Linked DNA regions of Homo sapiens: all the other regions are linked to region 1. Evidence: fine-mapped expression QTL. A gene starts in region 1. Each other region holds a variant in brackets. All regions are shown on one strand. Distances are from middle to middle.

Region 1 (5,101 bases):
TTTTAAATTGCATATGTGGTTCACAACATATTTCTTTTGGGCAGCACTGTCCCAGGCGTTGGTCCGTAGCCTCTGTAATCCTGAAGAAAGCACTATGCCGCCCCAATATTTGCACATGTTCAACCAATAAGTTAATAAATGCAGCCACTCTGTTGGAATTCCACATATATTTGTTGTCATAAGTAAAATTTTAGCCCTCAAGGGCTTAAATTTCTTATAGACTGGAAATGTCCCTTTAAGAGAGCATCTTAAGTCTCTCAAAGTATTGCAAAACCTCCCACTTGCTCCATTACATAGGTTCTGCACCCTGGAAACCATGGTAGTGATGGATGCAGGTGCTCATACTTGTCTTCATTGTTAGCACAGCTGGAATGAATTGAGGGAATCGTCTCTCTTCTTGGGATATTTCTGAAACAATGAGGCTGGAGACTGTGCAGATTGCACTTGTAATTTTCCTCTGACTGGGGAAGCCTAAGGCTCCACTCCTTCGGCCAAGTCTCCTTGGAACCTGTAGTTATTGGCTTGCTTAGTAATACTCATTACAATTTGGAGGGCAGGAGCTCTATTTTAGCCAGAAATTGTGGAAGAAGATCCTACATCAGCCACGTCTGGAGCTGCTTTTCTGCCCAAATCCAAAAATGTAATAGTAAACATTGAGAGTTTATACTGGGTCAGGCACAATGAGGAAACTGAGGCCCCAAGAGCTTAGGCAACCTGAGAGATTCCACAGGTAAAAAGTGGCAGAGCCAGGATTTCAACTCAGTTGGTCTAACTCCAAAGCTTGTGATCCTTATATCACCCTACACCTTCCAACACGGCTGATTATGGACCAGGAAACAAAAAGAGGGAAGCCTCACTTAACTGGCCGCAGAAAAAGCCTCTGAAAGAACATAGATCAGTTGGGCTGACACATTGTGCCCACACTGTGCACTGAACAGCCCAGTTGAGACTGGATCCTTTAGCAGAGGTTCCCAAACCGTGCATTGGAATAAGTAAGTGTTTAAGGGCCTCATTCCAGGGCTGCTAAATCAGAACTCTGGGAGTAGGGCCTAGAAATTTGTATTTTGAAAGCATTTTCCCAGTGGAGATAAGGGAACCGTTACCCTTGATTAGGATCTGATTTGGAACTTGGACTTCTGGATAACTCATGGTACAAAATGGAAGGAGGGTACAAGGAGGGTTTTACTTAAGCTACATCAAAGGAGGGGGCCTGACCTCGGGAGCGCCTTTGGTAGATCCACCATTTGTGCACTAATTTCTAAGCAGCTTCCCAACCTTCAGATTGCTGGGCCTCTGTTTCATCTCAAAGGGATAAGTGCTGTTGCCTGAAGGCAGGCAGACATTGCCACCTCTAGAACTAAGGGTAAGTAGTGGGAAGGCCACAATACTAACTCTCTCCTTCTTCCTCCTATTAGCCTTTCAGTGTTATGATGTACCCAGCTGGTCCAGGATCTGGTGACTCCCCAGAAGGCTTCCCTGAACAACCAAGGCTCCAGCCACAAACTGGAAATCGTGCAACTCAGACACTGGGTACTGAAACTGGGTGCATTGTCCAGTCCCTCCTTCAGAGCCTGTTTGGGGTAGAAGATTGGGGGAGGGGGACTGGGGAAGAGAGACTCAAAGAGGTCGCAGGTGGCACAGAAGTGATGGCAGAACTGGCCTTCATTTAGTGACATATGCTTTGTTCAACCAGTCAGTAAAGGCTTATGTGGTGGCTAGTAGTGCTAGCGAATGCAGATTCGGCCGCTTGCAAAACCAACGAGCAAGGTCGTGGTATGGTAGAAGGAGACTGACTTTATTATAAACCAAAGCTAGCAGTGGGGAAAAACGATCCAGGCTTTTGCTTTAATGGAGCTGCTTCACATTTCCAAGCAAAATGCGAGGCTTTAAGAAGTTTTGGCATGGAGGGTATGCAAGGGGTGAGGCAGTGCAGGTCTTCATGACGAGTTCTGATGACTTGTCTTGAGTTACTGCCCATCTGGTGAATGGGCTGGCATCATCTCGGGCTGGGCTGAGTTATAAATTAACTGTAGCCTTGAATCAATCTCCTGGTGGAGATTTCCACAGATGCCTATATTGTTTCAAGATTTAGTCTCTGGAACTTTTAAGCGAACATACAATTAGATATGCTAACAGTGTGTATGGGGGGTGCTGGGGTGTCGGGGGGTGCCTAGTGGTTAACTGAACAAAAATAAAGAAATAGAAGTATATAACAAGAATATAACTTCCAAGCTGGGTACTTGGTTACAATAGGTGCTTGGATTGTATTAGAGATACCTCAAAGTGAGCAAACAACCAGCCAGAACTGGTCCCTGGCCTTGTGGAAGTTTCTCTCTTCTGTCTCTCTCCTCTCTCCCTTCTCTCTCTCCTCTCTTTGTCCTCTCTCCTTTCTTTCTTGACTTCCTTACCAATGGGAAACCCTGTTTTTCTAGATTAGGGAAAAGAAGGCCCGTTTAGAAAGTAGGGAAGGAGACAAAGTCTTACTTCCTGAAGCAAGGTAGGACTCAATTTGTGACCTAGAATCTGAGACAGGGAAGTAGAGGCAGGAAAACGGGGGAAATGGGGGAATAACTCGCTTCCTTTCTGGGTCGAGAAGGGCTAGAAGTCAAGGTTCAGTGGAGCCTTAGAGAAAGTCCAGCTCTTCATTTTACAGGTGAGGAAACTGAGGGGCGGAGAGGCTATAGTGTGGTAACAAGGTGGACACCTAGTCAGCTGCAGAAGTGGGAATAAACTGTGGCCTTTGAATAACACTATGGGGCCTCCAGTGAGGCGCTCAATTTTAATTCGGGACGCCTGGGTGGCAGCCGGGTGCTAGGGGTGGCTAGTTGCCATGGGAACCGGCTCCTCCCACTTCCTGCGTGCGCACCCGTAGACCTGCGCTCCCAATAAAGTTGTTGTTGAAGCGCGGCGGCGGCACCACGTGGGCCGGACCGGGCCGGGGGCGGGGCCGAGCTGAGGGAGGACCTGCTGGCTGCAGTGAGGAGCGGAGGCGGGCGCGGGCGGCCGGCCATGATCGCGTCGTGCTTGTGTTACCTGCTGCTGCCGGCCACGCGCCTCTTCCGCGCCCTCTCAGGTACCGGCCAGGCGTACCGACAGACAGGAGCCCGGCCAGGGCTCGCCTCTGCGGGGCTCCGCGGGCCTGGGGCGGCGTGCGGTTGGCCGGGCCTCACGACTACCGTGCCCCGGGCAGTGCCGAGGTGTAGGGAGGCGGTCCTGAGCCCCTGCCCCGCGGGCCCCTCCTGACCCCACGAGGCCTGGACCTGGCCGACGTCCCTCGTGGGCGGCCCCTCCTCCCGCCTGTTGTCAGATGGCGTCCGGCCGCGGTTAAGGTGGAGAGGAGCTGTGGACGGGCAGGGCCCTTTCCTGGCCCTGGGGGTGCAGAGAAATTGTGGGGTCGGCCAAGTCAGCACCCCGGCGGGTCGGGAAGGGGTAGTAGCTCGGACCTAGGCGAGTGCCCAAATTCTCAGCGGGCGAGGCGGGTCGGCTCTGGGAGGTTTATGGCCGAAGTACTGGACGCACCGATCTTCCCCAGGTTAACTTCACACTCGCCTTTCACTGCCACCTGGCAGCTCTCGCTCACCGGTGTCTTTGGTTGAAAAACGGACGTTCAATCAGAGACACATTTAGATCTCAGCTTTGGAGCATTCCTGCCCCCACTCCCGGCGGTTTAGAGGGAGATGTGCTGGGGTGGGGGCAATGCCCAGTCGATACCTCAAAGAGGGGGTGTTTATTTCGTTATTGTTTCATAATTTGTCTGCATTCTCTATTTCTGGGCTTTGAAATTACGGAGGGTTTTATGCGACCATCAGTTTCTGAGATCCCATGGAACTCGCAGACTTTTTGCCTTTAATTTATGGGACAGGACCAAGAAGTACTTAGGAATGAGGGCTCCAATTGTATATTCTGTGGTTTTCCTTTGTGGAACTTTACACAATTGGTACGCAATGTGTGTGTCATTGATAATATATATTTCATATAGAAATATTTTAAATTTTACTGTGTATCTGCCATTAGAATGCAAACTTCAGGAGCGCAGGGCCACGTCCATTTTGTTCGCTGTATCTCTGGTGTTAACACATTGCTTGGTATACAGTAGGCACTCAGTGAATTCAGGAATGTCTTGTGTGTCCATACTTCTGAGGAATGTGGGAAACTCCACAGAAGTAATTGTTTCCAGAGAACTAAACATATTCTTTTAACTATGTTGCTGTTTTTCCTGGAGCTCTTCTAATGCCTTAGTGATACAGTATACTAGTCCAGAGGTTTCCAGACCAGTAGAGTTCTAGGGATCTCAGAGGAGGGCCCCCCCCGCCCCCCCACCTACACATTACAGTAGTCCCACTTATATTTACTTGGCATATTTGGTTTCCAGATAAGATTTTTAAAAAACAAAAGCATTCTGCTGCTGAAAATCCACCACCACCACCACCAAAAGACATCTACCAAAATTGAAAGCTAGTAACTTCGTGCATATGAACCAAAGAACCTCTGCCATCTGGTATACACAGAGGATATTTCAAGGGGCAGATAATCAGGAAGTCCTTGAGGCTAAAGCTCAACGACCCAGCCCATACATAGGTTTAGAGCAGGGTTTCTCAATCTCAGCACTGTTGACGTTTTGGACCGGATCATTTGGTGTGGGTCTGTCCTGTGAATTGTTGGAAGTTCAGCAGCGTCTCTGTCCTCTAACCACTAGATGCCAGTAGCAATGCTGCAGTTGTGACAACAACAGTGTCTCTGAACGTTGCTAAATGTCTTCCGAGGGCAAAATCACCGTGGTTAAAACCATTGTTTAGAAGGACATAAATATACATAGACCCCAAACAAGATATTTGAACCGTCTTTCAATATTTGAGCCACTTTTAAGGTTTCTTCCCTTTAAAAAAAAATTGCCAATAAAATGAGTCTAGTGATTGAGGGCCAGCATCGTGCATGTTACTCGTCCTGTGCTGTAAATAAATGGTTGAGTGTGTGAGTGTAGGAGTTGTTTGCTCTCACCAAAATACTGTGCTCAGAGTTTGGGGGCTCTAATTTTAGAGTTTTTCCCACTTTCTTTCTTGCCTGTTGGCTGTCATTGGTGGCTGCAGTATCAGAGAGATGT
Region 2 (5,101 bases), 36 kb before region 1:
GCATCATTTATAAAAGTAAGAATTAGCCAGGCACAGTGGCTCACACCTGTAATCCCAGCACTTTGGGAGGCTGACATGGGCAGATCACGAAGTCAAGAGATCGAGACCACCCTGGCCAACATGGTGAAACTGCGTCTCTACTAAAAATACAAAAATTAGCTGGGTGCGGTGGCGCGTGCCTGTAGTCCCAGCTACTCAGGAGGCTGAGGCAGGAGAATCGCTTGAACCCGGGAGGCAGAGGTTGCAGTGAGTGGAGATCACGCCACTGCACTCCAGCCTGGCGACAGAGCGAGACTCTGTCTCAAAAAAAAAAAAAAGTGAGAATTATTTGGCCAGGCACGGTGGCTCACACCTGTAATCCCAGCACTTTGGGAGGCCGAGGCAGGTGGATCACCAGAGGTCAGGAGTTTGAGACCAGCCTGGCCAACATGATGAAACCCCGTCTCTACTAAAAATACAAAAATTCACTGGGTGTGGTGGCACACACCTGTAGTCCCAGCTACTCAGGAAGCTGAGGCAGGAGAACTGATTGAACCTGGGAGGCGGAGTTTGCAGTGAGCCAAGATGGTGCCATTGCACTCCAGCCTGGGTGACAGAGCAAGACTGCATCTCAAAAATAAATAAATAAAAGCAAGAATTATTTATCTGGTGGAATATTATGAATTAAAATAGACAGAAGTAGCTGGAAAACATCTTCAGGGGCTGTATTTACACAGGAAGGCTGTGATGGACCTGGCATATTACGTCACATGATGCCTATCATGGCAGGCCACGGCTGCAGTGGTGACTCCAGAATTTCTCTCCAGCAGAGGCTCAGGGGCACAATCAGTTGGAAGTGGGGAGGCACCAGGCTTGGCGAGAAGCTGGGTTTGCACAGAAATCATACTTTTGTTTTGACCTGAAGATGATTTTGCTTACATGTTCCACAGGGTTGGAACATCCTATTTAAACACATTATTATTGTTGTTTTTATTTGGGGAGGGCAGTTATGCCAAGGAGGCCATTGATGGAAAGGCTAAAGTCCTCTTGAACCATTACTGAATGGGAGGATAATGGGAGGAATTGCCTTTAGGCCTCTGGCCCAGGAATAATGTCTTATTTCTTTTCTTTCTTTCTTTCTTTCTTTTTTTTTTTTTTTTTTTTGAGACAGAGTTTTGCCCTTGACAATCTCGGCTCACTGCAACCTCCGCCTCCTGGGTTCAAGCGATTCTCCTGCTTCAGCCTCCCGGGCAGCTGGGATTATAGGCGCCTGCCACCACGCCCAGCTAATTTTTTGTATTTTTAGTAGAGACAGGGTTTCATCATGTTGGTCAGGCTGGTCTCGAACTCCTGACCTCAGGTGATCCACCCGCCTCGGACTCCCAAAGTGCTGGGATTATAGGCATGAGCCACTGCACGGGCCTATTTCTTATTTTTCATGGACAGTGCACTACGTTCTGATCATGCTTCTCTTTGTGTCAACCCTGGGTGTGAGTTTTTAGTAAAGTGCACAACACCTTATATAATTTTGGGAACAAACTTTCTCCTGCCTTCATTACCCCCTCCCCTCCTTCACTCTCTTTTTACCCTTATTTCCTCTTCTCTGCCAATTCCCTCATTTAAGCTACACCTTGCACACCTGCATCACTCAAATGGCCACACAAGTTAGATTATAATTCTGATCTCACCACTTACTACCCATGTGATCCCAGGCAGGTTACTTATCCTTCCTTTACATCTGTTTCCTTATCTGTACGATGGAGATATCAACCTGTATAGAGTTGTTTTGTTTTGTTTTTTTGAGACGGGGTCTCCGTCTGTCGCCCAGGCTGGAGTGCAGTGGCGCAATCTCCGCTCACTGCAAGCTCCACCTTCCAGGTTCACGCCATTATCCTGCCTCAGCCTCCCGAGTAGCTGGGGCTACAGGCACCCACCACCATGCCTGGCTAATTTTATGTATTTTTAGTAGAGACGGGGTTTCACCGTGTTAGCCAGGATGGTCTCAATCTCCTGACCTTGTGATCCGCCCGCCTCGGCCTCCCAAAGTGCTGGGATTACAGGCGTGAGCCACCACGCCTGGCCCTATATAGAGTTTTTTTTAAATGAGGATTGATGTAAAATGCCCAATTTGATGCCTGTCACATAGCAATCACTTCAAATAATAAGTGTTGGGTTTTTTTTTTGTTTTTTGGGTTTTTTTTTTTTGAGGCAGAATTTCCCTCTTGTTGCCCAGGCTGGAGTGCAGTGGCACGATGTCTGCTCACTGCAACCTCTGCCTCCCAGGTTCAAGTGATTCTCCTGCCTCACCCTCCCGAGTAGCTGGGATTATACACCCAAGTCACCACGTCCAGCTAATTTTTTGTATTTTTAGTAGAGACAGGTTTTCACCATATTGGCCAGGCTGGTCTTGAACTCCTGACCTCAGGTGATCCACCCGCCTCGGCCTCCGAAAGTGTTGGGATTACAGGCATGATCTACCCCGCCCAGCAATAGTAAGTGTTTTTAAAAGCTGCACTTGCAGTACGATTATAACAATTTTAAAAGACAGCACAGGCCCGGGGCAGTGGCTCACATCTGTAATCCCAGCTCTTTGGGAGGCCGAGGAGGGTGGATCACTTGAGGTCAGGTGTTGGAGACCATCCTGGCCAACATGGTGAAAACCCATCTCTACCAAAAATACAAAAAATTAGCTGGGTGTGATGGCTTGGGCGTATAATCCCAGCTACTCAGGAGGTTGAGGCACGAGAATTGCTTGCACCCGGGAGGCAGAGGCTGCAGTGAGCCAAGATTGTGCCACTGCACTCCACCCAGCCTGGGCAACAGAGCGAGACTCCGCCTCAAAAACAAAACAAAAGAGAGAGCACAGTCTGTCTCATGTTAAATTTATGACCTCAGTTTTCAGACAGAGACTCAAACTGCCCCACATGGAAAGGTGCTTCCATTACATGTTGCTCCTCCCTCCTGCATGGTATTTTATACCTTCTGCTCTCCCATCAACCCTAGTGGTCTGAACTGAACTTTCAGCTGAAGATCTTGCCTCCTACTTCACTGAGAAAATAGCGGCAATGACAGGCTTCAAATGCCACCATGAAATCTACCCACTTACTGCACCCGCACCCACCCTTTCCTCGTCCATTTTTCAATGAATGAACTGTCCCTCCTGCTCTCTCAGGCCAGC[G/A]AGCTCCGCACTTTTGTTCTGGACTCTATTGCCTGCAGCCTTCTCATGGACTTTGCTCCTGTAATTACCTCCTCCTTCTTCTGTAGCATCAGTTTATTCTTCTTTCTTCCTCTCAGCATTTTCCATCCTTAAGAACTCTCCTTGGACTCTATGTCTCCCTTGGCTCCTGCCCCCTTTTTCTGTTCCAACCTTCCCAGCAGAACTTCTGTGGTTGCGTATAGTGTTCTTTTTGCTTTGCATCCTATTTTCTTTTTCTTTTTGGAGGACAGGGTCTCACTCTGTTGCTCAGGCTGGAGTGCAATGGCATGATCACAGCTTACGATAACCTCTAACTCCTGGGCTCAAGCAGTTCTCCTGCCTTAGCCTCCCAAGTAGCTGGGACTATAGGCATGTGCCACCATGCCCAGCTAGTTTTTGATTTTTTTTTTTTTTGAGATGGAGTCTCACTCTGTCACCCAGGCTGGAGTGCAATAGCAGGATCTCGTCTTTTATTTATTTATTTATTTATTTATTTATTTATTTTTGAAAGTAATATTTTATTTTATTTTTTTATCATACTTTAAGTTTTAGGTTACATGTGCACAACGTGCAGGTTTGTTACATATGTATACATGTACCATGTTGGTGTGCTGCACCCATTAACTCGTCATTAAACATTAGGTATATCTCCTAATGCTATCCCTCCCCACTCCCCCCACCCCAGGATCTCATCTTACTGCAACCTCTGCCTCCCAGGTTCAAACGGTTCTTGTGCCTCAGTCTCTCTAGCAGCTGGGATTACGGGCGCACACCACTACACCGGCTAATGTTTGTATTTTTAGTAGAGACAGGGATTCACCATGTTGGCCAGGCTGGTCTGGAACTCCTGACCTCAGGTGATCCACCCGCCTCAGCCTCCCAAAGTGCTGGGATTACAGGTGTGAGACACTGTACCCAGCCCAACTTTTGAATTTTTTGTAGAGAGTGGGTCTCACTATGTTGCCCAAGCTGGTCTTGAGCTCCTGGCTTCCCATCTTGGCCTCCCAAAGCACTGGGATTACAGGCATGAGCCACTGTGCCAGGCCTCCATTTTCAACTCAACCTCCTCCATTTGGGTTTCCATAACTCACCCACTCCACTAAAACAGCACTTTTTTTTTTTTTAAATTTTAAGTTCAGGGGTACATGTGCAGGTTTGTTATATAGGTAAACTTGTGTCACAGGGTTTGTTGTACAGATTATTTCATCACCCAAGTATTAAGCCTAGTACTCAGTTATTTTTCCCGTTCCTCTCCCTCCTCCCTCCCTCCACCCTCAGTTAGTCCCCCAGTGTCTGTTCCCCTCTCTGTGTTCGTGTGTTCTCATAATTTAGCTGCCACTTATAAGTGAGAACAGGTGGTATTCGGTTTTCTCTTCCTATGTTAGTTTGCTAAGGATAATGTCCTCCAGCTCCAACCCTGTTCCTGCAAGGAACATGATTTCAGTTTTTTTGTGACTGCATAGTATTCCGTGGTGTATATGCACCAAATTTTTTTAATCCAGTCTACTACTGATGGGCATTTAGGTTGATTCCCTGTCTTTGTTACTGTGAATAGTTAAAATAGGACTTTCAAAGCCACTAACACTCCATGCTGCCAAGTGCCATGGTTACTATTTTATCCTCGTCTTATTTGATCTCTCAACAGCATTTGATGCAACTGTCGATCTTCTTCCTGCACTGCACCCTTCCTCGGCTCCTGCCACCTCGCTTTTCTGGTTTCCCTCCTATTTGACTGACCACTCCTCAGACTCCTCTTCCTCCTCTGTGAAACCTAAAAATGTCGGAGTGACCCAAAGGTCAGTTCGACGGCCACCTACTCAACTCTGTCTACACTCCCTGACTAGATGACTTCATCTTGCCTCATGGTTTTAAATACATCTATATACCTATGACCCCAAATGTGTATCTTCAGCCCTGATCTCTTCA
Region 3 (5,101 bases), 24 kb after region 1:
AGAGGAGGACAAGTGAGAGGGAAACTTCACTGATACTTTTTGCTACATTTTGATTTTGTACCATGTGACTATATGACTTATTTTTTTTTAATCAAATTAAAGAAAAACAAAGGTGAGGAGCCACAGAAGACAATGTCTGTGTTAGATGCCCTACATCTGCTTTCTGAGGTTCTTGACTTTGGTTTATGGTCATCTTCTCCTCCTCACTGTTTCTCCCTTTCTCCTTCTGGATCCTTCTGAAGCAATCCAGTCAAGGATCTGAGAGGGATTTTAGGGTGAAAGGTTCTGATCCTGCTTCACTGTCTGTGGATGAGAAAATGTTTTTCTCTCTGGTCCTCTGCAGAGCGACCTGCGGGTTGGGCTGAGTCTGTCCTTGAGGAAGATGCATCGGAGCTTGAGCCTGCCTTCTCCAGGTAACCTTCTCCAGTTCTCTTCTGTTTTCAATCCAGCCCTTGCCTAGGTGTAAGAGAGAGATTCCCATTGGTTGTCCTGAGGTTGACTTGGGGGAGCACTTTTTGATAAGCTCTTTTTCCCCTAATATCTGCTAAACTTATAGAGGGTTATGTAGGTATGCAGAAGCCAGAGGTGACCCACCCATGTTACTGCAGGTGAAAAGGCTATGTACTCTTTCCTCAGAGGGTAAAGCCTCACAGAAGAGGCCTGGGCCCCAGACAGGGGTACATTGGGGATACTTTACCAGGTAACAAGCAGATAGTGGGGGATTAGGAGTGTTAGGGAGTCTCAGTACAAATGTGTGTTTCTAGGCTAATTTTAGCTAAGACTGCCAGCCCCTTCTTAGCATGGGGAGGAATTGGCTGAGATTGAGTCATCTGAGATCATCCTTTTAAAAAATCTTCATAAAACCCATAGAAAAAGTGATCTAGGGAAAATTTAGTAATTTTTGTTAACTAATGTTTCCCCCTTCATCCCTGTAGGACTGTAGGTACCATCCAGCACTGCCTCCACCTGACGTCAGTATATACCCACTTCCTGCCCCAGCGTGGCCGCCCAGAGGTCACTACAATGCCATTGGGTCTTGGAATGACAGTAGATTACATCTTCTTCTCAGCTGAGTCCTGTGAGAATGGGAACAGAACTGGTAAGCCTGATGGATCCTGGGTTCCTCCACCCCCAGGTCCCTGGGAACAGCTAATGGTAGGTCAGGCATTTGGTAGCATGTCTTCAGCTGCTGGGATTTAACCAGCAAAGGAGCAGATTTCATACCTCCCTTGCACTGGTCATCCTTATCATTCTCCCCATAGGCCACTTGCCTGCCTTGTCTCTTTTTACCCTTGCAGCATTAAAGAGAGGAGGGTAGGACAGTCACTCCCAATCCCCATTTTAGAGGTAAAAATAGAGATCTAGGAATTGGTTGAGTTTGTTTAATGACAGCCACTGAATGAGGGACTTGGTTAGGTAAGAGACCTTATTTTCTGTCTCCTCTCCCCATACCAGTGGGCACAGTATAGCAATCTCCCAGCCCCATGCCTGTATTGTGTAAAGAATGTTTCTTTTTGGCCAGGCATGTGTATTACTGTTATGGCCAGGCACGTGTATTACTGGTTCACACCGGTAATCCCAGCACTCTGGGAGGCCGAGGTGGGTAGATCACTTGAGGTTAGGAGTGAGACCAGCCTGGCCACATGATGAAACCCCGTCTCTACTAAAAATACAAAAAATTAGCCGGGTGTGGTGACGGTGTCTGTAATCCCAGCTGCTTGGGAGGCTGAGGCAGGAGAATCGCTTGAACTCGGGAGGCAGAGGTTACAGTGAGCCGAGATCGTGCCACTGCACTCCAGCCTGGGCAACAAGCGTAAAACTCCGTCTTAAAAAAAAAAAAAAAAAAAATTAGCCAGGCATGGTGGCGGGTACCTATAATCCCAGCTACTCAGGAGGCTGAGGCAGGAGAATCGCTTGAACCCGGGGGTCAGAGGTTGCAGTGAGCTGAGATTGCGCCACTGCACTCCAGCCTGGACAACGAAGTAAGACTCCATCTAAAAAAAAAAAAAAAAAAATCAGATTTTATATAGAAAAGCTGGATCTCTAGCTTCTCTTGGAAAATCAAAAGATCTTATAATGGTGGGCTCTCCAGCTTGCCCCAGTTCCCCGGAACTCACCTGTCTTTATTCGTTGATGATATTATGGAGTATCTCTGAGAAAATGGGGCCTCCTCAGCCAGATGCTGCAAGAGGAGGTGAGGGGCAGTGGGCAGCCAAG[G/A]GGATGCAGCCTGCAGAAGGCGTTCCCAAAGGACTCTGCCACTGCCTGCCCATGCAGTGTGGCTGCGGCTGCTTTTACCCATTGGCTTCTGCTTTGTGCCCCAGATCACAGGCTGTATCGAGATGGAACTCTCAAGCTCCTGGGTCGTCTCTCCCTTCTCTCTGAAGAGATACTCTGGGCTGCCAATGGCTTACCCAACCCCTTCTGCTCTTCAGACCACCTCTGCCTGCTAGCCAGCTTCGGGATGGAAGTCACCGCCCCATGACAGGGCTCCCAGGGGAAGAGAGCTTCTCTTCCAGAAGAGCTCACTGGATCAGAGACTGTGGAAAAATCCCATGCATCTAGAAACTTAGATCCAAGAAACTTACATCCCCTCCCTTCCCCCTCCTCGTTCCCTTTTTCCCACGGTTAGACTTTCTCCAGGCCTGGCTGCGTTCTCTGCCTGTGGTCCTTGCCCCACCCCAGCCTCTTCCTAATCCTGTGCCACACACTCAGTGGCCCTGGGAGAGGCAGAAGGGGGGCTCCCCCTTCCTTCCATGTATCCAGCGCTCCCCCTTGATTTTTAATTACCAGGGTTATGGGAGTTCTTGATTTCATTGGTTATTTGCTTTCAGGCCGTTTCTTGATGTACCTTCTGACCTGACCTTTTCCCTGCCTTCAGGACTTCTGGGCCCAGCCCTCTTGCCAGGCATGCATATGTGAGATATGCATATCATGTATGTGTCCTCTTGGGGTGAGACTTCTGCACAGCCATGCCTGCCTCTGACCAGTCCACTTTTCATGTTGGGGCTGTAGGCCTGGGGCAGGTTCAGAGTCTACCCAAGTACCTATGTATGAGCAGGCAGCAGCAGGGCATGGCCCCATCTCTCCTTTTAGCCTCTGTGTTTCATTAGGCATTCATCCTGCCAACCAGGGCAGGCCCGGCGTCTGGGCTCTGGGAACAAATGGGGCCCACATCCTGGAGTGGCAAATTTTGGGGGATGCGCTACCTGTCCCAGCTGGCCCTGTGCCTCCAACCCAGAGCTCCCCACAGACCTGGTGTAATTTCACAAGGGCCATCCCTTTCCCCAGGCTTCCCTGAGGGAGGCGGAAGTTTGAACCCTTATGTGGGGTTCATTGGGCTAGGGTAGTGGTATGAGGTTTAAAACTATTTAAGGATTAGGAGGAGAAAGAGTCTTCAGGAAACTCTTGTTTCACTGGACTCTGCAGCCTGCAGAACTGGGGCAAGGGTAGGAGTTCCAGTAGGGGAAGGAGCAGGTAGACTCTTCAGCTGCCTCAGCTGGGACTGAAGACCTAAGCTGATTCTCTTTCCTCTCCACTCCTAAGAAGCAATTTTCTGTTCCTCTCCTTCCACCACTTTTTACTTTCTGCTATCTCCCATCTCCCGCTTCCCTTCCATTTCCTTTCTAGAAAACCCTGGTATTTAGCTCAGGCCAAACTGCCTCAGCAGAAAGGTGGCCTTGGACAAAACTGGTCCAAGAATTTGAAGTGGCAGTACTTGCGGATTGGCTCTGTCCAGCAAGGCCTCAGCTGCTTGTTGCGTCTGCTTTCCCTCCCCTAACAGAAGGGTACCCTGGCTTATTCAGGGGACTCCTTAGTCCACACTGTGTCACCTGCATGCCTTAATCTTTCATTGCTGGGGTGTGGCCTTGGGAGATCCTGGGCCAGCCCCTCCACACATCTCCCTAAGTCAGAGTGGCTGCTGGCCCTGGTAGATTTGACTTGCTCTTGCCTCACTCGACCTCCAAAGTGGGACTGAAGACAGTGGTCAAGAGACTTGAGTTCGGGACAGTAAGCCAGGGGTTAAGGTTCTTTCCTTTTTTTGAAAGCCAAAGACCCAGTTTGCATTGTGCTGCTGCATTCATGGTTAGAAGCTTTCCATGCCTAGGTTCTAGGGAATTTATTTTTCTATGTGTATATATTTTCAAACTTTGTTTCCTGGGTACTGGGCATGTGCCTGTCTGAGCCCCAGGTCTGTCTACACCCCACCATTCATTCTGTCTGTCTGTTCCCTGGACACTGCCTAAAAGGGTCTCAAGACAGTGCCCTGTGGGTTCCTAGGACTAGGGCCCATCACTGTTCTCTTCTGCTGGGAAATGCAGCTTTAAAATGGCTAACCACAGCAGAGGGCAGATGCTTGATAGATTATCTTTTCCTTGCTTTCTTGTTTCTGTTTTGAAAGTGAAATGGGGTTTTAAATTGTTATTTAAACTCTTTTTCCAAATAAAGGTTTACCTTTTTTCCCCCCAATGTTGTTCATTTTATTAGGATCCTGAAGGGATTAGGTCCTTGAGAGAGGGCCTGAAGAATGAGGTGGGCAGAGGAAGAGACTAAGGAGCTTTTGATCTTGGGGTGGGGTCTCAAGACATGAATCTAGATTGAGAAATGTGTTGTAAGATCTCCCTCTATTAGCTGAGGTAAATTCCCACTGCTGTGAGGCCTGGGAGGAACAGGGCTTGAGTGAAGCCTCCTGCCTTGACACTGCTGGGGTACAGCTTTCTTCTGTCCTTCCCAAGTGAGAGAATGATTCTTTGGACTGCTTTTCATTCTTCCTCCATCTGCTCCCCCCATGCCTCCTCCTAGTATCTTCTGCACTTCAGGAGGGTCTGTGCAAAGTGGGATAAGATGTGTGTTTTCCTGATTAAAGCTATGGCAGCTGCATGAGACATGATGCGGGTGGCACATGCCTCTTGCTGAGCATCTATTTCTGATCTCTTTTGCATTCTGGAGCCAGGGCTGAGCAGTGGGCCATCTGTCGCTGGAAAAATGTCTCTTCCTTCCTAGGCCTACCTCTGTTGGTGCTTTTGTCTTCCAACCTCCCTATGTAGTAAGACCAGCCAAGCCCACATGCCCACTGGGAGCCCTGAAACCAGATCTGGTTTTC
Region 4 (5,101 bases), 49 kb after region 1:
GCTCTGTGGCCTGAGCCATAAGAGACCATAAAAGACCTTCAGCAGCTGGGTCTGGGGTCAGTGGCCACTAAGCTTTTAAAGGGGGTGGAAGCCTGAAACATCAAGGACAGACTCTTATCAAGGAGCCTAAGCTGTTGCTGGATTTGGGATCTTTCTAGAAATTGTTGCCCTATAACATACTGGCATCATCCCTGTAAAGGCTGCTTCTCCAAAGCGCTAGTGGGGTGTCGATGAACACTCACTCCCTGCTCCATTACTGGGTATCTATTAGAGGCACTTAATGAAGCATCACATGCTTTGCATCATTAATTCCTCTAACATCCTCTTGATGGGCATTGCTATTAGCTCCATTTCACAGCTGCGGAAAACTGAGGCACAAGAAAGTTGCCTGTCTTCCTCATATAAGTAGTTATGGGAGATCAAGGATTTGAACATGGTAGCTTTGACTCCAGAGTGCTCTCCTTTTATGACACCAGCCTGCAGGGGTCCCAGACTCAACCACATGCAGGGGCCGGGCAAGTAACATACACGGGGCAGGCAGGCCTGGTAGGTGAGTGGTGGAGACAGTGGCAAGATGGGGGAGTAGGACTCACTCCCCAGCCCCAGCTGACAGCTGCCACGTGGGACTGCAGATTCCCATGTGTTCCCAAGTCTTCTTATTTTCTGAAAAGATGCCAAAACTCTGGATCTTTATGTGAGAAATCTCCCAATTTTCCCAACAAAACACTTCTTGAGCCCCACACTGTGTGGCCGCTGTAGGGAATGACCCTGTGCCAGCTCCAGTGGCATGGCCCCTAGGGATGGTAAGGGCGGGGTCAGCCCACCCTGCCACTGGCACCCTGGCACCCAGGCACCCAACCCACGCTGCTTCTCTCCAAGGCCTCCTGGACTCCACTGCACTCCCAGACTCTAAGGGTACCTTTCTACTCAGAGCCCAGGTAGAGGAGGGACCTCATGCAGACTCATGCGATTTATCTGAGATCTGTGGTTTGAAGAGGGGGAGGTTCAAATTTTTCCAAACCTCTCACAAAATTCCTTCTACCCTAGCGATGGAAGTCTAGGGGTCTGTCACAACACAGCCCCCACCCCTAGACTTCCTTCATCCGTGTCTTTCCTGTACATGAGGACTGAAGATGACAGAATGACATTACAGACCAGTTACTAGTGAGCTCACTATTTCTTTTTTAGTTCCCAGGAGTGGTGGCAGTTCTGCAGGGAACCATTCACACTCTTTTATGGCCTGATTTAGACATAAGCAAGATGGCTGGAGAGCTGCCCGACTTGTTCACGTGGGAGCAGGGTGTGACTCTGGCCTCATCGGGACAAATGATCTGAGCAAAACCCAGTCTTGCCGCTTGATAAAGCACATAAGTAAAGGTGATGGATGTCTGGCCGGGCGTGGTGGTTCACGCCTGTAATCCCAGCACTTTGGGAGGCTGAGGTGGGTGGATTACCTGAGGTCTGGAGTTTGAGACCAGCCTGGCCAAAATGTTGAAAATGAAACCCCATCTCTACCAAAAATACAAAAATTAGCCAGGTGTGGTGGTAGGTGCCTACAATCCCAGATACTCAGGAGGCTGAGGCAGGAGAATCACTTGAACCAGGGAGGTGGAGGCTGCAGTGAGCCAAGATCATGCCACTGCACTCCAGCCTGGTGGAAAGAGTGAGACTCCATCTCAAAAAAAAAAAAAAAAGGTAACTGATATCCAATAACCAGGTACTGGTTTGGGGCTTTACAGTTTGTTAAATACTTTAACACACAGTCTCTCATTTCTTCCCCACAATCAACCTCATCTTATTGATAAGAAAACTGCATCTCAAATAGGTGGAAGAGGCCATATAGATAAGCAGGTGACCCCTACCAATGTCAATATCCTTTGACGCAATACTTTCGCTTTCAGAATTTTTCCCAAGGAAATAATCAGAGATGAACCCCAAAATTTATATTTTAGAATGTTCACCATAGTATTCATTTTAGGAATAAAACTGGAAACAACATCCAACTCTAGGGGATTAGCTAAATAAATATTAAGTCAGTGCAGAGCACATTTATGCGGCCATTCCAAATCAATCTACATTTTGTTTCCCCTGGAAACATTAGGCAGTATTTAAACCTTCAACCTTTGATTCTCTTTTTCCCAGAAGACACTTTCTGATGGCTGTACCAATAACTTGGTAAAAACAAAACGGGCCACTTGTCCTCATGTCTAATTCACACTAACTTCCATTCTTCCTAGCCCCCTTCCTTCCAACCTGGGCAGGCAGGGCTAAGCACTGGGCTCTGAACTCAGTCCAAAGGGCTCTTTTTTGGAGATTTCAGGCCTCTGCATTTGGCAAAGTGCCTCCTAGTCTTGATCATGTTTTTTTTTTTTTTAATATCTGGCATGTATTTCCATATAGCAGCGTACAGCACAGAAACTCTCAAATACCCTTTCATTCAGCAAACACACACACTAGTGCCTGTTCTGTGCCAGGCACACAGGAGGCCTTGGGAAGACAAAGATGAATGAGATACAGCCTCTGTTTTCGTTGGTGACACAACTGAAGTATAGCTGTCATGGAGGAGGAGTTACAGCCAACACAGAAAAATTATTTCATTTTATGCTTCTCCATAAGACCTCTTCTAATGTGCTTGAATCTACTGTCCAACAGAGAAGAGGACCTGGACACTTCCCTCCACCACCA[C/T]CCCCCGCCCTTCTCCTGAAGACCTGAAATTGAATCTCAGTTCTGCCACTTACTGGCTGTGGGATCTTGAGTTCCTACTTGAGTTTTCAGCTTTCTCATCTGTAAAATGGGAATCCAAACTGTACTTACGTCACAAGGCTGTTGGGAGAATTCAATGACATAATGCACGAAAATATTTTCTCAACATATGAAGCCCTGCATCTCCTTAGTCATTCATTACATTTGTCTGCTCACAGTTCTCTGGCTTGGCAAGTGTCATCAAGCAAATGAGACGTCAAGCCATCCTACTGTGTTTGTTAGTTCCATCTGCTGCTGTCCCCTCCTGTAAAACGTGGACATTTTAAAAGACAGCGGGGAGGGCCTCCTGGAGACAATGTATGTGAGCCTCCCTCCTAGAATGGCAGTGAGAGAAAGTTCTCCTAGACAGGTATGATATCACTGCATTTTAAAGATCTTACCGAGCCAGTGGTCCCCTGCCCCGTGGGAGGAGAGTGTGGCTTCACTCTTGGCCCCAAGGTCACTAAAACCTAGACTGTGCTATCACCCCCCTGACCCGTGTGTCTCACCTTGGGCAGGTCTGTGGCCCCACGGATCCGTTGCGCCACCTTCTCTCCATCGGGGTGGATCTTGGCCACGTGTTTCCACATCCTTTCCCAGGTGGCCTCATCCACAGGTAGCCCACCCCGGTTGACAAAGAAGGGGACGCCTCCGTCTCGCAGGTCCTCTTCCCCTTCCTCTTCTGGCTCCTCATCTCTCTGGGCTGAGGTTCCTTCGCTGGTCTCCAAACGCCTGACCCCAGAGGGGGCGGTGGCCGCAGCGGACGTTGGAGTGGCACCGCTGCTGCCACCCCCAGCCACCTTCTTCCCCCCTGGCATCCCTAAATCTTCGAGGGGGGTGGTGGAGGCGGGAAAACAACTGGCTCACAAGAGGCCTCCCACACACCGGCTGCAGAGATAACACATGGCCAGAGTGCAAGGCGCCTTTAAGAAATCAGGGCGTGGCTCCTGTACAATAAAATACGACTTGATAAAAAAAATCAGTGCAATAAGGTGAATTAGGGTCCGAGGGGGTGGGTTGTCTGGGGTCAGCCTTGGAGGCCTTGTTCTGTTTGAAAAACGGAATAAAGAGAACACACCCCAACTTGGCAGCCGTCACAAAGCACCCCCATCTAACTGCGAGAACAATGACGGGCAGCAGTGAGGGCTGGCAGAGCGGAGAAAAGTCGGAGGGAAACTGAGGCCAGACAGCTCGGACCAGCGGCTGCAGAAAGGACAGAGTCAAGGCACGGGTGCCCACTGGGCGCCCTGGGTCTCAGTTTCGGAGGGAACAAAATCCCCTACACAACTCTCGCACGCTCACATCTGCGCGCGCCCCAAGGAAGACCGAGGCGACTCCCGGCCGCGCGAGCTCGGAACCAAGACCCCCGGGCGGGAGAGCGGCGCTGGGGGGCGATTTCTCCGACGCGACGAGACAAGTCCGGGAGCCAAGACTCGCAGCTGGCCGGGAGCGGGGAGGGGGCGCGCGCCGACGCGCACATTCCCCGCCTGCGGCCAACTCCCTGCACAAAGTGGGCTTTGTCTGGGTCCCCTGTCCCCTCGTCCCCAGAAACAGCGGCGGAGTCCCCAGAAAGGGAGCGGGCGCGGCGGGGAGGCGAAGGCTGCGAGCCCCGAGGCCCAGCGGGTCCCCACTCGGGCGCGTCTCAGCGGGAGGACGGCTGGCACCTGGCGCCGCGCTGCACCAGCCGAGCCATCGCAGGGCACGGGGCCCGCGGCTCAGCGGGACCGGCTCGGGCGGCGCGCAGGGGCCAGGCTGAGGTCACTGAGCGGCGGGCTGCGGCCGCGGGGTCGCTGCCTGGGACTGGCTGCAGCATGGGCGGTGGCGCGGCCCGGGCGGGCGGAGGATGCTCCGTGGCTGTTCGCTCGGGCTGCAGCTGCCCTGGCTGAGGGTGGAGGAAGGACCGCGGGGCGGGGACCGCAAGCCCGGAGGCTCGCGCAGCCTCGGCCGGCGGATGTAGCTGGAGGCGAGTGACGAAGCCGGGCGAGCGCGCGCTGCGCTGGTGCCTGGGGAGCAGCCCGCCAACGCGGAGCCCGCCAACGAGAAGCCCACCAGCCGATCGCTGCTCGGCGAAGCTGGGGCCGCCGCTGCTGCAGCCCCGCCGCCCCTGGGCCCCGCTGCCGCCGACCACGTCCCCTGCCAGCCAGCCGCCCACCAGGCTCGACTACGGCCCGCGCCGCGCATGCGCTCCGTCCCCCCCTTAAAGGGCCAGCGCCTTCGCGCCCAGTCCTCCGCCCCCCGCGGCGGTGCCTCTGTCCCAAGTTACCCCAAGGACGCCGGTGGGCATTCGCTCCCTCCTCACCCAGCTGTCAGGGCGCCGCGAAGCCGGTGCGAAGCTGCGGAGGACGTTTTCAACGTGCCA
Region 5 (5,101 bases), 35 kb after region 1:
GTTCTGCTCTTCCTTGTGTAGCCCCCCAGCCCTTCTGCAGCCTTACTGACAGCTGTCCCTGGCAGACTTACAGCCTCTCAGTAAAACAAAACCTTAATGGTCATCTCATCCGTTTACCCTTCCACAATCTGAATCCTTTCTACCTTTCTACCGCCTCCTGACAAACAGCCATCTCGTCTCTGCTGTAGGTAACCCATTACTCCTCAAGCAGCCTGATCCTGAACTCTCCCCCACATCCCTTTCTCACTTGCATCCCCCAGTTCCCAGCTGTCCCTCAGTGGCTGCACTGCACCCTTTACCTGCACCTCCTTGTTGCTTGAGCCTCCAGAACCTACCCCTGGCTCTGCCAACCTCTCCGCATCCTCTCACTTTCCCACTGGGTATCTCATGCTGACGGGCAGGCTGGGGACAACCCCAGGTGCCTAGGTTCTTCCCTGCCAGGGCCCTGATGCCCTGCCACAAGTGACTGGCCCAGCCATCATTGCAACCCCAAGCCAAGATGGGCTGTTAAAGAATGGAAGGCAGGCCTGGGGCAGAAGCATCCTAGTCTGGTCTTGATTTCCCCAGCAAGGGCTCCTGGCACTGCTGGCGGAGAGACCCAGGCCCAAGCATCCCGCCCCATCACCCCATGTCCAGCCACAGCTCCTGGACTGGCACCCAGGGTTTGCTCAACTCCCACAGCCATGCTGGCCTCAGTGCCATTCTGGGTCCTCCGCCAAGCCCAGACCCTCCGCAGGGAGCCTGTGGGCTAGAGCAACAGGCAGAGCTGGGACTGAGCAAGTAGACGCAGTTAGGGCCTGGGAACTTTTTGCCCAGAGGTCCTTCCCTGGGCTCGCTCTCATATCACCCCTCCTCTGCCCACACAGCACTGCCCATGGGGGCCTCAAGGGCCTGAAGGCTCTCCTGAGCCACGAGCTCATGCTCTTGGGGCAGATGTGGCCTGTGCCAAGCTCCTGGTTAATGGGCTACACAGACCTTTCTCAGAAGGACTCCTACCCTGCTTCCCTTTCCCTGGGTCAAGATTCTGCCAGGGCAGGCAGAACTGGAGAAACATCTCCACCCCACCCCCACCCCCCATCACAGGCCTGGTAAGGCTGGGAGATTTCCCACTGATAAGATGCACCCAACTCCCAGAGAGAAGCCAGGGGCAGAGGCACCAGCAGAACCAGCAGTTTCCCTCACCTGGCCCCATGACACATGGATTTGTTAAGCACTGGCCTTCCCACCATCAGCAGATCCATTTGGACTAAGTTTTCCCCAAATACCTTAAACTTCAGTTGTAGAGTTAAAAACTCCAAATAAAATACTAACGGCCTCTAGGCCCAAAGTTAGGGGGCTTGGCTCAGTGGGAGCGAGAGCAGCTTGGGGGGCTGAGCTGGAACACACTCTTCCTGCAGCCTCTTGCCCTGCCTTGTCACCAGCCCCGCCTTCCCCATGCATAAGGCTGGTTCCAGCAGGTGGATCCTGGCCCCCAAGAGTGGGTGGGGCCTGGGGTGCTGGCATCCGCCTCAGACCCGGATCTGGTACCCGTTAAGGTCTGGCATGGCTTTGGGCTCGGAAGTCTTCTTGTCACCCGAGGGCCTGTGGGAGGAAGAGAGCAGAGCGGGAGGAGAGTGAGTGGTCTGTTAGGGAGATGGAGTTGGGGAGCCAGCAGCGGCTGCCTGGTGGCTTCCCCGCCACATTCTCCAAGTGGCCCTCCAACGCACAGCACAGTGCGTATGGAAGTGTGTTTTTGGACACCCTGGCCCGCCTGTGCTGTCTGAATGTGGCCCCGGCTCGCTCTCACAGGCTTTCTCGCTGCTGGAGGCTGGCTAATCTGGCTGCAGTTGGTAGGTAACAGCTTAAAGTATAAATCTGTCTGAGGGGAATCTGTCATCTACAAAAGCCTCTTAGATAAAAGTCACAGATGATGGATATTTTGGTGCCAGAGGCCTGCTTAGTACCCCACCCCTGAATTCATACCAGAGAGGTGGCTCCTGAATGACAATTATATTTAAAGCAAGAGTCAGAGTGATGTGTAGGAGCTGAAATCAGAGGAGGAGAGCTGGTATTTCAATGGCTTGTTCTTGCTACCTGGATACAGACAAAAACCAGACTCTTGGGTGGGGGGCAAAGTTATGTTCAAAGCCATCTAATATTCACGCCCTCCCCCATGACATTCCTGGGTGGCT[C/T]ACTGCCTTGCAGGGGCCCCATCCTTTCTACCTTTTCTCTCACATAACCCATGCTCAGACTAGTGGGCTAGCAGAGTTTGGTTTCTCTGGGGAAGTAGAACTGCCTTGCTGTGGGAAATGTCAATACACAAACCTCTAAACCCACCATCCCAAGTCACCTCCCTTGGGTGGGAGCGAAAAAGAGAGAAGGGTGGGAGAGAGATAAAAAAAAAAAGGGACCCACACGATGAGAGGAAAGGAAAAAAACCCTCTTTGGACCCACCCAGGCGTGGTCCCTCTCTCACCGTCTTTCACTGCGGCTGTTCCTGCGGTGGGGGCTGGACTGGGCCCGCTGCGGGGAAGAAACATCCTTCTTCCGGTCCTTGGTGGGAGAGGGAGGGCCCGTCCCTTTGCCAATCTAGGTGCAGAGGAGGAAGCAACAGCATCACTCCAGGACTGCCCTGGAGCCCAACCTCTCCTTCCAGGAGCCACAGGTCCCTGGAGGCTGCCCTGGGGAAGGCCCGGGGAACCTCAAGCATGGCTCTTCCCTGTCTGGATCTTTCCCAACCTATTTCCCAGGCACTAAAGCTGCCAGAGCAGGAGTTCCTCCATGGGGCTGTCCAATCCCTGTGGGCTCCTGAAGGCAGAGTGGAAGTGGGGGAAGTCACTGAGATACCATAATATTGCAAAAAGTCCCCAACAAAGGCCAGGTAAACGTGCCAGTTGTGGGAGCAGCCCACACTGAACTTGGGGCTGAGATCCCACTCACCCCAAGGGTGATGCTGGGTATCTCCAGCCATTGAGAAGTCAGACTGGTAGCTTTAGCTCTGCTTAAGAAAAAAATGAGAAAAACAAAAGAGTCATCCTTTATATGGCACCGTCAGCTTGACTTGAGTTTTCAAAACGCAGGAGTGCTGGAGAGGGGCAAGTAACACAGGTGAGTGTTTAGCACTGAATAGGCTGGGAATCCATCACAGCTCTAAACACTAGGGAACTGTTGGCTCTCACCCTAGATCCAATCTGATGCCTTAAAGACACAATAGCAAACTGAGGAGCAAGAGCCAGGGTGCTGGGGGACCCAGAGCTAGGTGGGGAGCGGCAGCTCAGGGGCAGAAGAGAGCAGCCCCTCTCTAACGCAGGGTTGGCTGCAGCCTGCCTCTGCCCTAGGGGAAGGCACTGTCACCCCAGGAGATCTTGGCCTAGGGCTGGCAATGGCTAGGGCAGCCGTAGCTCTTACAAACCCCTGCCAGGACACCTGCAGGCACCTGCAACACACCTGGGTTCCCCATCACCCCATCAGGAGGCTGAGCTCCAGTCTGATCTGCCTCTCACTGCCAGTGAGCAAGACTCTGGGCTTCCAACCCTGAAAATGGAGCTACCACCTACCGCCCGCTGGCCTCCCAGGGCTGTCAAGAGAAGCAGTGCACTTGGGAGTGCAGAGGTCGGTGGTTGAGGCGGAGGCTCCAGGCTGCCTGGAGGGGCAGTCACAGTGCAGCAGTGACTGAGCTATGGAGATACCCAGCAGGGGGCCCTGGCAGCCCCAGGAGAACCCAGGCAGATGTCAGAATTCTGCCTGCTGAAAGGCTCTAGGGCTCAACAGCTCAGCCCAGCTGTTTTTGGTACAACAGCCCCCAGCCCAACTCCCTATCACCTCCTGCTCAAGTGTGGGTGGGAAGAGGAAGAAGGAACACTGCCCTCATTGTCTTCCACATGGTCTGACTTCCCTTTCTTCTGACCACCTCCTAGTCCTTTAATGGTTGCTAGGGTTGGGGGGCAGAGTCAGGATATGTTACAGGAGGAGTGGGGAGGCTGCCCATCACAGCACCCGATCACACCCTCCAGACAGGCCGTGATTCTCCACCAGTGACCTTGCCATGTGCCCAACACCTACCACCATCCAAACCCAGCCCACCCACCTCCTCCCTCCGCAGCCGTCCTGGTCTGCCCACCCCAGGGGACCACCTGAACAATATCGACCACTAAGCAAGGTCCCAGCACCCCAGTCCCCTGAGAAGCTCCCCAGTCCTCTCAATCCTCACATCGCCTCTGCTGGGGCGGGGGAGGGGGCGAGGGAGGGGGCGAGGGCGTGGAAGGCGGGCAGACCTTGAGCCGCATGTCGCGGGCGTGGCGCTCCAGCTCCTTGCGGAAGTCATCGCGGCCCAGGCGCTCCACGTCCAGCACCGAGTGCTTCCACTCGATCTGCTCCACGCTGTGCGGGTCGTGTGACACGCTCTGGCCCAGCTTCACCTTCTTGAGCACGTGCCAGCAGCGGCCGTAGGCGGCCTCGAAGTCCAGCACGAGCTCGCTGAGCGTGCGGAAGGCGGGCGGCTTGTACATCAGGTCCTCGCGCCGACTCATGCCCAGCGCACCGTAGCGGCCCGCGAAGTTCACCCCCAGCACGATGTGGCGGAAGTAGTTCCCTGAGAAGTAGGTCTTGAAGCTGATGGGGAAGCGCTCCAGGGTGGGCATGCTGTTGGTGAGGTAACTGGCCAGTGCCCCGCTAAGGAAAGAGCCAGGAGAAGCACGGGGCCAGCACACCGGGAGGGACTGGGACCGGGAGCCACGGGGTCCACGCACCGCCAGCCTTGGGGTGCAGACACCAGTCCTGCTCATCTCCATACGCCTGGCGTCTCCTCCTGGTATTCCTGCCATCTAGCATTGAGCCTGGTATCCAGCTGGAGCTCAATAAAGGGAACCTCGAATAGGCACGGGGCTTCCAGGGATTTGTGGCCACCGCTCTGAAGTCCAGCAGGGCTGGTGCCACACTGCAGGGCTTTCCAGAGCCCAGTGGCCCAAGGACGGAAGAGAAGCCTTCCCTCCCCTGCCTCACTCCCTCGCCCTCCATCCCGCACCTTGGCACACACACAGGCCACAGACGCGGCTTCACTCTTCTCTTACCCTCACCCTGTCCTCTCCCCATATCCACATGCAACCCTGCCTGTGGCCCTTCA

Alleles and levels. Positions count from the first base shown, and alleles are read on the strand shown. Sizes are in standard deviations (SD) of each study's normalised expression. Not every link is listed here.
With allele C in place of T in region 5, the expression in transverse colon of the gene that starts at base 2,955 in region 1 is higher (moderate effect, 0.42 SD a copy in GTEx).

The links. PIP is the estimated chance that this variant, and not a neighbour inherited with it, causes the effect.
Region 2: its variant is fine-mapped to the expression of ANGEL1 in whole blood (INTERVAL, PIP above 0.99).
Region 3: its variant is fine-mapped to the expression of ANGEL1 in whole blood (TOPMed, PIP above 0.99).
Region 4: its variant is fine-mapped to the expression of ANGEL1 in whole blood (TOPMed, PIP above 0.99).
Region 5: its variant is fine-mapped to the expression of ANGEL1 in transverse colon (GTEx, PIP 0.94).

What each region holds. Positions count from the first base shown.
Region 1 is chr14:76,810,736-76,815,836 of GRCh38, reverse strand. It overlaps ANGEL1 (angel homolog 1), which reads left to right and starts at 2,955. Exons shown (of 10, transcript NM_015305.4): 1 at 2,955-3,073. The coding sequence starts at 3,010. RefSeq lists a silencer at 2,888-3,317 and enhancers at 2,766-3,339, 3,340-3,914.
Region 2 is chr14:76,846,887-76,851,987 of GRCh38, reverse strand. The region is part of intron 7 of LRRC74A (leucine rich repeat containing 74A); the gene reads right to left. Among named protein-coding and RNA genes, the nearest start is that of LRRC74A, 23 kb to the right of the region's middle. The variant G/A (reference allele first, on the strand shown) is at 3,158.
Region 3 is chr14:76,786,609-76,791,709 of GRCh38, reverse strand. It overlaps ANGEL1 (angel homolog 1), which reads left to right. Exons shown (of 10, transcript NM_015305.4): 8 at 344-413; 9 at 936-1,099; 10 at 2,322-5,101. The coding sequence ends at 2,482. VASH1-AS1 (VASH1 antisense RNA 1) reads left to right here and starts at 4,986. Exons shown (of 2, transcript NR_104184.1): 1 at 4,986-5,101. The variant G/A (reference allele first, on the strand shown) is at 2,218.
Region 4 is chr14:76,761,281-76,766,381 of GRCh38, reverse strand. VASH1 (vasohibin 1) reads right to left here and starts at 4,914. Exons shown (of 7, transcript NM_014909.5): 1 at 3,252-4,914. The coding sequence starts at 3,560. RefSeq lists silencers at 4,388-4,657, 4,758-4,947. The variant C/T (reference allele first, on the strand shown) is at 2,686.
Region 5 is chr14:76,775,426-76,780,526 of GRCh38, reverse strand. VASH1 (vasohibin 1) reads right to left here. Exons shown (of 7, transcript NM_014909.5): 5 at 4,254-4,635; 6 at 2,456-2,568; 7 at 1-1,581. The coding sequence ends at 1,509. Among named protein-coding and RNA genes, the nearest start is that of VASH1-AS1, 8.7 kb to the left of the region's middle. RefSeq lists an enhancer at 4,030-4,988. The variant C/T (reference allele first, on the strand shown) is at 2,172.